2 separate regions of the Homo sapiens genome follow, and region 1 is linked to region 2. Evidence: fine-mapped expression QTL. A gene starts in region 2. The other region holds a variant in brackets. All regions are shown on one strand. Distances are from middle to middle. Region 1 overlaps MAP3K4 (mitogen-activated protein kinase kinase kinase 4). Region 2 holds the start of MAP3K4 (mitogen-activated protein kinase kinase kinase 4).

The links. PIP is the estimated chance that this variant, and not a neighbour inherited with it, causes the effect.
Region 1: its variant is fine-mapped to the expression of MAP3K4 in monocytes after R848 (Quach 2016, PIP 0.95). The same link has a PIP of 0.9 or more in monocytes after LPS.

Annotation. Positions count from the first base shown.
Region 1 is chr6:161,107,232-161,111,622 of GRCh38, forward strand. MAP3K4 (mitogen-activated protein kinase kinase kinase 4) reads left to right here. Exons shown (of 27, transcript NM_005922.4): 21 at 668-738; 22 at 1,512-1,628; 23 at 2,524-2,683. Among named protein-coding and RNA genes, the nearest start is that of AGPAT4-IT1, 53 kb to the right of the region's middle. The variant T/C (reference allele first, on the strand shown) is at 2,041.
Region 2 is chr6:160,989,316-160,993,706 of GRCh38, forward strand. MAP3K4 (mitogen-activated protein kinase kinase kinase 4) reads left to right here and starts at 2,454. Exons shown (of 27, transcript NM_005922.4): 1 at 2,454-2,768. The coding sequence starts at 2,617. MAP3K4-AS1 (MAP3K4 antisense RNA 1) reads right to left here and starts at 3,027. Exons shown (of 1, transcript NR_174962.1): 1 at 1,003-3,027. RefSeq lists enhancers at 1,890-1,949, 1,970-2,039, 1,992-2,861 and silencers at 2,130-2,459, 2,922-3,216, 3,130-3,259.

The DNA of each region.
Region 1 (4,391 bases), 120 kb after region 2:
CTTTCCCCACTTAAATATATTTATCTGTCACACATCTAGGTCTGAAGGGGGCGAACACAGTTGTATGAATAATATGGGACTTTGTCAGCCTGAGGAAACCTGATGTTTCCTTGGAGCTATCAAGGAGGGCAAAAACCACTGAAAACAATCAAGTACTTTATAAATTGGATTAATTATTGTTATCAGTCTTGTCCAGGCACATATCCTCTTGCTTTAATGTCCCAGAAGGTATGTTAGGGGAATGTTTGCTCCCACACACTCCTGGACATGTGCCAGTGAGGAAGACAATGGTCAGGCTTAGTCCTGGCTGTTTTCTGCTGCTCCCAGCCCCAGCCAAGATCTCCTTGAGGGGTGTGAGGGCTCAGAGGTGTGCACCAAGGCTGCTTTTATTGGTCATTTTCATGCTTCTCCTGGAATTTACCAAAGTCGGTTCTGCTCTATTTAAAGATACTTGTAGGTAAGACATATTAAAGAGATTGCCTAAAACTTTAGTTATCAGGGAACATTTAGAAAAATTTTGGATCTTGCAATAGTAAACTGCAGTAAACATAATTATAGATATATAAATATACGTCCAAAATAATTGGACAGTATTATTACAAGTTTAAGGAATGTAAGACAGCCCCCTGCAGTGGCTGGAAGTGCAGCTTGTTTGCATTGTTCACAGGAGAAGGCCAGTATGGGAAGGTGTACACCTGCATCAGCGTCGACACCGGGGAGCTGATGGCCATGAAAGAGGTGAGTCACCTGGCTCCGTGGGGCCTTTGGGCCTGGCGGCTCTGGGTGATAGAAATTCCGTATAGACGCTGGTCGTGATTCAGTTCTCTGTGCGTAGAGCTGTCTTCAGCACCAGCACTGCGACAGTCAGGACCAACCAGGCAGATGCACTGAGATAACACACACAGACAGTGAAGGGGCTTACGATTCCAGAGAGGATAATAAGTCACAGACAGTTCTAACAGCACAGGTGTGAGAAGGGCCTATGAGGGTGGCAGAGCTGAGTCTGATGAAGGCTTAGAGGAGAGGATTAACAGTAGTGTCTTATGGGGACACATTGGGGGAGAAGATAACATTTATGATAAGCTTCAGAAACAAGTGGCATTGAAACCGCTGGAGGTAGGATGGGGAAAGGGCCAGGGAACCTGAAGTAGAAACAGGACTCACTGCTGTCTGTGGAGACATCCGGTTTGACGTGGAAGGAGGAGAGGAGTGGAGAGGGGAGGCTCCAGCGTCTTGCACTTGCCGTGGAGCCGCGTCCTCCTCCACATGGCGCTCCTCACTCCCTCTCGGAGCAGGGCCTCTTCCTCCTCTGTGCCCGGGACCTACCCGCACTTCTATGACTTCACTCTAGCTTGGCTAAAAACTTCCTTTTTACTTAATTTTTTGTTGTTTTTAATTGACAAATCATGATTACATATATTTATGGGGTGCAAAATGATGTTTCAGTGTATGTGTATAATGTAGAGTGATTAAATCAAGCCAGTTAACATTTTTGTCACCTCACTTTACAGATTCGATTTCAACCTAATGACCATAAGACTATCAAGGAAACTGCAGACGAATTGAAAATATTCGAAGGCATCAAACACCCCAATCTGGTTCGGTATTTTGGTGTGGAGCTCCATAGAGTAAGCCGACCCTAATGCCACTCTTTGTGTGAGGAATCAGTGAGGGCACAGAATGGAGTCCTGTTCTACATCACAGGTCTTCTCATTTCAGAGCACAGTAACTTTGCCTAATTCTCAGGAAATCTCCATGAGTTACATCATTTCTGCCTTCTCTCTGAAACTAGAGGAGTTCCTCCTAAAATGTAAGTTGTAGACTGTAGTCATTAACCCGACATCATAAAGCACTGAAACCCATCCTGCCATTCAGAAGATTCTTCTAAAACGCCCCTTACACCACTTCTTGTGACTTTTTTTCCGTTTTTTTGCTGAACCACTGTTGAGTACACTGTTAAGTAATACTGGTTTTTTTCTTGTATGTATTTAGGGAGCCATTGTGAAATGAGAGAAAATTCAAACCTCAAATTGAGTTTCC[T/C]CCTTGTGTTTAGAAATAAACACGTCGAGGGAAAGAGGATAACTTGGAGCATCGTGGTGTAGAGCATGAGCTTCCAGGGGAAGTTGGAAATGGATCATTTTTAATGTTTTTACAAATTATGTTTAAAAAGGATGTGTTTCAGTACTTAATAATGTATTTGTAGGGACAGCCCTGTTGGTCCCTGTCTGAGATTATATAGCAGACTTAATTTCAGAGGATAATAGAAATTGATCCCCTGTGATTTGGAGATGTTCTTATCCCCAAGAGCTGTATAATTCCAGACAGAGGAGGCAGGCAGACACCTCTATAGAGGACTTAGAAACGACTGTTGTGAGACACATTCAGTGCTCAGGATGGCAAGTGTAGTATACCGTTAGAAAGAACATTCCTTTGGGGTGTGGCCTAGGAAGTTTTCCAGATTTTTCACTAGCGTACATCTAAGGAAAACCGTAAACACAGAGCTGCCCTTTATTCCTCCCACAGGAAGAAATGTACATCTTCATGGAGTACTGCGATGAGGGGACTTTAGAAGAGGTGTCAAGGCTGGGACTTCAGGAACATGTGATTAGGCTGTATTCAAAGCAGATCACCATTGCGATCAACGTCCTCCATGAGCATGGCATAGTCCACCGTGACATTAAAGGTAATCCCACACCCGCCTGGCTGCTGTGGGCCAGAGCCACTGGTACCCAGCCCGTGGGAGGTGCTCTGAAGACGCTCATCCCATTCCCACATATGATTTCTCTAGATGGAAATACCTTTCATTGAAATACGCCTCTATAAGGATCCTGTATTCAGAAACAAGGTAGAACTCATGTCTCTCTACCCAGGAGTCCGCTCTTTCTGTTCAACACTGCTTTTAGAGAAATCTGTTTTCCCAAAATGAAGTTTGCTATTTTTATAAGCTGATTTGGCATAGCCCGTGTACTTACCAGACATTCGTGATCAAAGCAACCTTTTTTTTCTCTCGTGTCAGGATTCTTGTCTATTTATATATGAAAATCATGAATATGTAAACCGACAGTAAATCAGATCAGAAGTGCACATATAAATTTGAGGCTACGTTTTTGAGACAAGAATGGGGTTTGTTTACACAAACCTTGAAATTGAGTTCTGCTGAAGGTTATTTTGGCCATGCTGATGGATTAAAAGTGCTCTTCTCATAGCACGAGGGGAATAGCTGGGCTTCTGTCTCAGAACGGTCACCGTGGCATTTGCCTTAACCACGCCATGCCCCTGACCTTTGTATTTGCAAGTCTTGAGGATAATTAAAATGGGGAAGTATTTTTGTGCCTATTTGGCCCTAGGCTGAAGAGTTTCATTCTGTCCTGTAGTCTGAGGCTAACCTAAACACATTAACTTAGGAACCGACCTGACTTCTGACCAGGGACAAGACCCAGTGTGGGAGGTTATTTTGGATTACACCAGTCTGCTTTGGTCTGGGTGTAAGCATTGTTCGTGCTCTGTAATGTGGCTCACCCTGAATCACCCAGCATACACCGGTCTCATTGGCTGCCTGCCTGTCCGCTACCTTGCTTTGGTGTCTGGGGTCATCCTGATGTTGGCTTAACTGGCTCTGTACCAGGCCGTAGCACTGCCTATTTCTAGTCGTTCTGCCACAGACACCATCCTCAGTCTCTGTCCACTGTCACAAAATGGTGTTTGCACGTTTGTTCCGTGGCAGGAAGAGACTCCCTTAGAATCTGAAGCAGGTCAGCTCACTGGTGTCTTATCCAATGCTTTCTAGTTCAGCATGGCTAAGAAGGTACAGATGTACAGTCGCTCGAGAAGATCAAGCTGCCCCTCGTAGTCAATTGTGGGGAGCATCAACTCTAGGAGCACTGAGTTATGAGGATTCGCTGTTGACCTCAGCTCATCAGATGGCTGCTTGTCTAACTCCATTGGCTCTGTGTTGTTGCTTTTCGAAGGAGGTACCATAGAACACAATGCCAGAGATGTGTGACTTAGTTGGAGCAATAATATCTTGCAGCCTAGAGCAAAAGGCCAAGCTGTCCTGAGAGATGAACAGTATTCCCAAATTCTAACTAGACTACAAGTTAAGCATATATGTTGCTTGTAGGAATATTTGAAAATTGCAGAACAGTTTTCAGTCACGTCATATAAATGCAAGGGCCTCAGCTGGGACTCTGAAGAACTGCAGTGCGTGTGCAGCTCTCATCTACATGTCGCTTCCTGTTTCAGACGCTGCTGATTGTACACATCTCTCATTCTCCAGACTGCCACCACAACAAGCACTTGTGTTTTGTATGCAGTTTCTTTTTAAGTATCTCTGTGGGTTATTAATGTTAGAATGTATGCATGTATTTCAGTTCAGAATTTATTGGTCAAGG
Region 2 (4,391 bases):
TCTTCAGTAGAACCTTAGCTTTTTAAACTCATTTCAAAGTAAAGAAATTCCATAAGGGCTATGTGGATTCGGTCTTGAGGACAAAGAGTGAAAGGTAATTCTCTGAAGATTTTGTTGTCATTGTTTTTAACATGATTAGGCTGGGTGCAGTGGCTTACACCTATAATCCCAGGGTTCTGGGAGACTTGAGGCCAGGAGTTCAAGACTAGCTTGGGCAACATAGTGAGGCCTCAGCTCTACCAAAAAAAAAAAAAAAATGTTTAAAATTAGCTGGACATGGTGGTATGCATCTGTAGTCCCAGCTACAGCAGAGGCTGAGGTGGGAGGATCACTTGAGCCCAGGAAGACCCTGTCTCCAAAATAAAAAAAGAACATTATTAAAGGTAATGAGACAATGAGACCAACCATGTGCTAAACAAGAATAAAAATTTAGAGACAAAAATCTAATAACTTAAAAAAAATAACTATTTCATTAATGCAACAATACTTACTGAGTTCTACTAACACCATGTTGGGCACCAGAGACATTTGATCCCTAGGCAAAGGTCAGAAGAAGGAAGAACAGCTTCTTTCCTGAAGGAGCTTACACTATGGTGGAGAAGGCAGAAAAGAAATCTGGGGGCTGTGAGGCGCTCACTGGGAGCCCTGAAGACAAAGTGGGGGCACGGGGTGAGATGAGAGGGTTGTCAGCCAGAGAAACAGCTTTCCTGGACCCAGCATGGGGGTGGGGCGAAAAGTCACAACACTTATATTGAATATTTAGTACCAGTTAACTTAGGTTTCTATACATGATGCATTACTTGATTAGGTAAGTGTAAATTTACTTGGTTCCTGCTAAAATACATAGTATCCTCAAGTGGAAATTAAAACACAAGAACAAGCCACAGGTCTCCCGCATGCTGATTATATTTGCTAAGTGTTTTGTGACTTGGACACACGTGTCTGCATTATCAGCTAGCTTAAATTCGGTAGTCATACCAAAGAATACGTAGTACAATGCTGTTTAAAGAAGAGATTTATTTTATTATTTAACTTTTAAAGTCTCTAATATGCCTTCTAAGAAGGGTTCTGGCTCAGAAAATTGCAGAAGAAAATCGAGTAGAGAACTAGAATTACAGAAACCTAAGAAATACTTTTACTGAGCTTTCTTCACACAAGAAAATGCACGGAAATGAATTATACATGGATACCAATTTGTGATTTTTAAAAATTTGTAATTTTTTAAATTAAGATAAAAATTAGTTTATTTTTTTGAATACTTTTTTGTTTTGTTTTACCTCACCCTTTACTAAGCTGTTAGCTTGGTCTGTTGCGCTTACTGCTATATCCTCAGCATCTAGTACAGTTCCTGACACATATATGCACTTAATAAGTATTTGTCAAATGAATATTATTGAGTAAATAAGATGAAGGTCAATTCAGAAATTCAGCACTATCAGGCTATATACATAATACAGACTATTATAAAAAACTAGAATGGAGCAGTTCCTTTTAACGACGGAGAAATGTCAGTAACATACTTTGAGCACAATATAGCTAATTTCACAACTGGTCTTTAAATATAACATACCTATAATCAATTTAATGTTTTTCTTTGTTACCAGAGTTGTTCAAAACGTGCGTTTCACCTATCAAAGCTCAACTAAATGAGGTTTAAGAAATCTGCACATTTGAATGTACTTAATTTTAAAAGATTCTGGTTTTGGATTAACTCTGGATTTCACCCTATGGGAAATTTTGTAAATATTTCCAACTTAAAAAAAAACTGTGAAGCCCCAGCGCTAAGAGTAAACGATGCATTGGAATTTCAACAGGATTTCTGTAACTCTGAAATAATCTTTAGCATTTCTTCTTCCCCCCATCCCCTCAGTGTAGGAGCATTCCAGTCCAAGTTTCTGGGAGATCGCTATCGAATCTTATGACACTGGGGTGAGAAGTTTTGCCGGGTTGAAATGAGGGGGTCACTTTAATAATCTGGAATTCCGGAGACTTTATGTCAAGTCTTAAAAATTCGAGCCTGTGGAAGGCTGCGCTGTCAAGAGACCGGAGTTGCGAGCGTCTGGGTGACGTCCGTCCTCCTGGAAGGTGGGATCCGGGTGGCAGGTCCCTGGGCGGCGACTCCGGCCGGGCTCATAGCGTCGCGCCCGCCCCGCTCATCGGCCCTACCCAGCGTCCCTCCCAGACCGACGACCGCCTGGGAAGCCTCGAGCTCCCAGCCCGCTGCACAGCCCGGCTCCGCTCCACAGTCCCCCACTGCCACCGGCCGGGGCGACACCGGGCGAGCTGGCGAGACCCGGCTCCAGGACCGAATCGCGCCGACACTTGACGGCGCTCCCCGCCCCTCCCTGCCGCCGTCTCCGCCCCCGTCCGGTCGCATTCCGGCGCCCGCCGCCGCCGCCGCCACCGCCGCCGATCTGGGAGGCTTGTCCCTCGCCGCCCACCGTAGCCCCGGCGCTCGGCCGGTCGCCGTTTCCAAGATGGCCGCGGCGCGCACGGCTCCTGCGGCGGGGTAGAGGCGGAGGCGGAGTCGAGTCACTCCCGCACTTCGGGGCTCCGGTGCCCCGCGCCAGGCTGCAGCTTACTGCCCGCCGCGGCCATGCGGGGCTCCGTGCACGGATGAGAGAAGCCGCTGCCGCGCTGGTCCCTCCTCCCGCCTTTGCCGTCACGCCTGCCGCCGCCATGGAGGAGCCGCCGCCACCGCCGCCGCCGCCACCACCGCCACCGGAACCCGAGACCGAGTCAGAACCCGAGTGCTGCTTGGCGGCGAGGTGAGTGTGGCGGCCGCAGTCGGTCGCTCGCAGAAAGCGGGGCGGGTCCTGGCCCGAACTCGGTCGGGCCCGAGGGCCTCTGCTTCCCGCCAGGTGGGGAGGGAAGCATCCAGTCTCTGCAGGCTGGGGCGGGAGGGGCGCGGTGCATCCCTGGGTCCCAGGGGACCGCGTCTGAGTCTGTCCGGCGACTCCTCCCGGGGTTGCAGCTCCGCAGGGTTCCGCTCGAGCGTGTTGCCGGCTCCCCTTCCCTTGTAGACTCCCCCAGCTCACCCTCAACGTTGCGGGGGCTGGGAGCAGAGTGCGGCTGCCTCCCCTGCCGCTAGCTTCGGAAGAGTGGCCTCACTGAAGTGCCTCTCATCATTACTGAACGAAAGTGGTCCCTCCCCTCTGCCCTCATTCGAGTAAAAGAGACATTCGGAAATCGAGTGCGTACTGGCTATTTCCCCGCGTTCTCCTCCTCCTCTCCTTTTGCCCGCTCCAGAGAATGCCTGTCATCTCTTCCGTGAGAAATTGCACTTAGACTATGCAGACAGATACGTTGCTTTCCTGTTCTGAGGGCCCCTTACTGTCCTTTAGTGCTAGTATTGTGCAGATTGTTGCTCACACGTGCACAAAAGTAAGGATTCATTTGTCTAAAACTTTGCTACTGCAGGAAGCTCTAAGGTGGAACTTCGGTAACCAAAGCATTTGTTGCTTTTTCTTCCATACTCTATTAACTTATTTTTATGTCTTTATTTTTTTTTTAATTGAGAGAACAAACTCACCATAACTGAGAATTTCCCTCTTTTTACGTGCCTATGTTTGTATGTTCAAATGTCCTCTTACTCCCTGTCCTTTGCATCCCAGAGTAAACTTGCAAACTGCTGCCCCCTGTCCCCTGTAATGAAAATACCTCGGCAGCTCCTCTTGGCATCTTATGGTCTTGCTCTATGGTTCTAGGAATAAGGCAGTAAAGTGTCCTCTTTTTCCTGCTTAAAGAAAATTCACACCTGTAACTGTAGTTAGAACTGAACACAGGAGCCATATTCTTGCTTGTCATCATTCAGTTGGCCCAAACAAATTTGTTTTATTTTTATAAGCTGTGAAGAAATTAGTTGCCTCTTTTAATTCTGAGATAGTTCTGGGTACTTCTAAGGAACAACTTCTCTGAATAATGGTACAGGGTGTAATGAGAATTCCTTTGGTTCCTTTTGAATACATCTAGTATTTTTAGAAATTTTGTCAGAAAGTTTATTATAAATTTGTTAACGGATCAGTTTTCGAGCAATTTTGATACCTTTTTCTTTAAAATTAATAGTGAACACTTAACGGTTAAAATAGGCCATTGTCTTTATTTCTATTAACCCATTTAATCTTTTCAACAACTCTATGAGGTAGGTCCTGTTATACTCTCTTTTTGACAGATGAGGAAACTGAGGCACACAGTTTAAGTATCTTGTCCAGGGTTTCACAGCTGGTAATGAAGAAAGGTCTGGCTGCACAGCCCATGTCTTTAACCACCATGAAGAATTCATTATCCAAATGGGCGGATCAGAAATTAGAATTCTGTATAACCCTACTCCGGAAAGAAATGGACATGAGCATTCTTAGGTAAAAGCGAGAAGGGCAGAGAAATGAAAATGT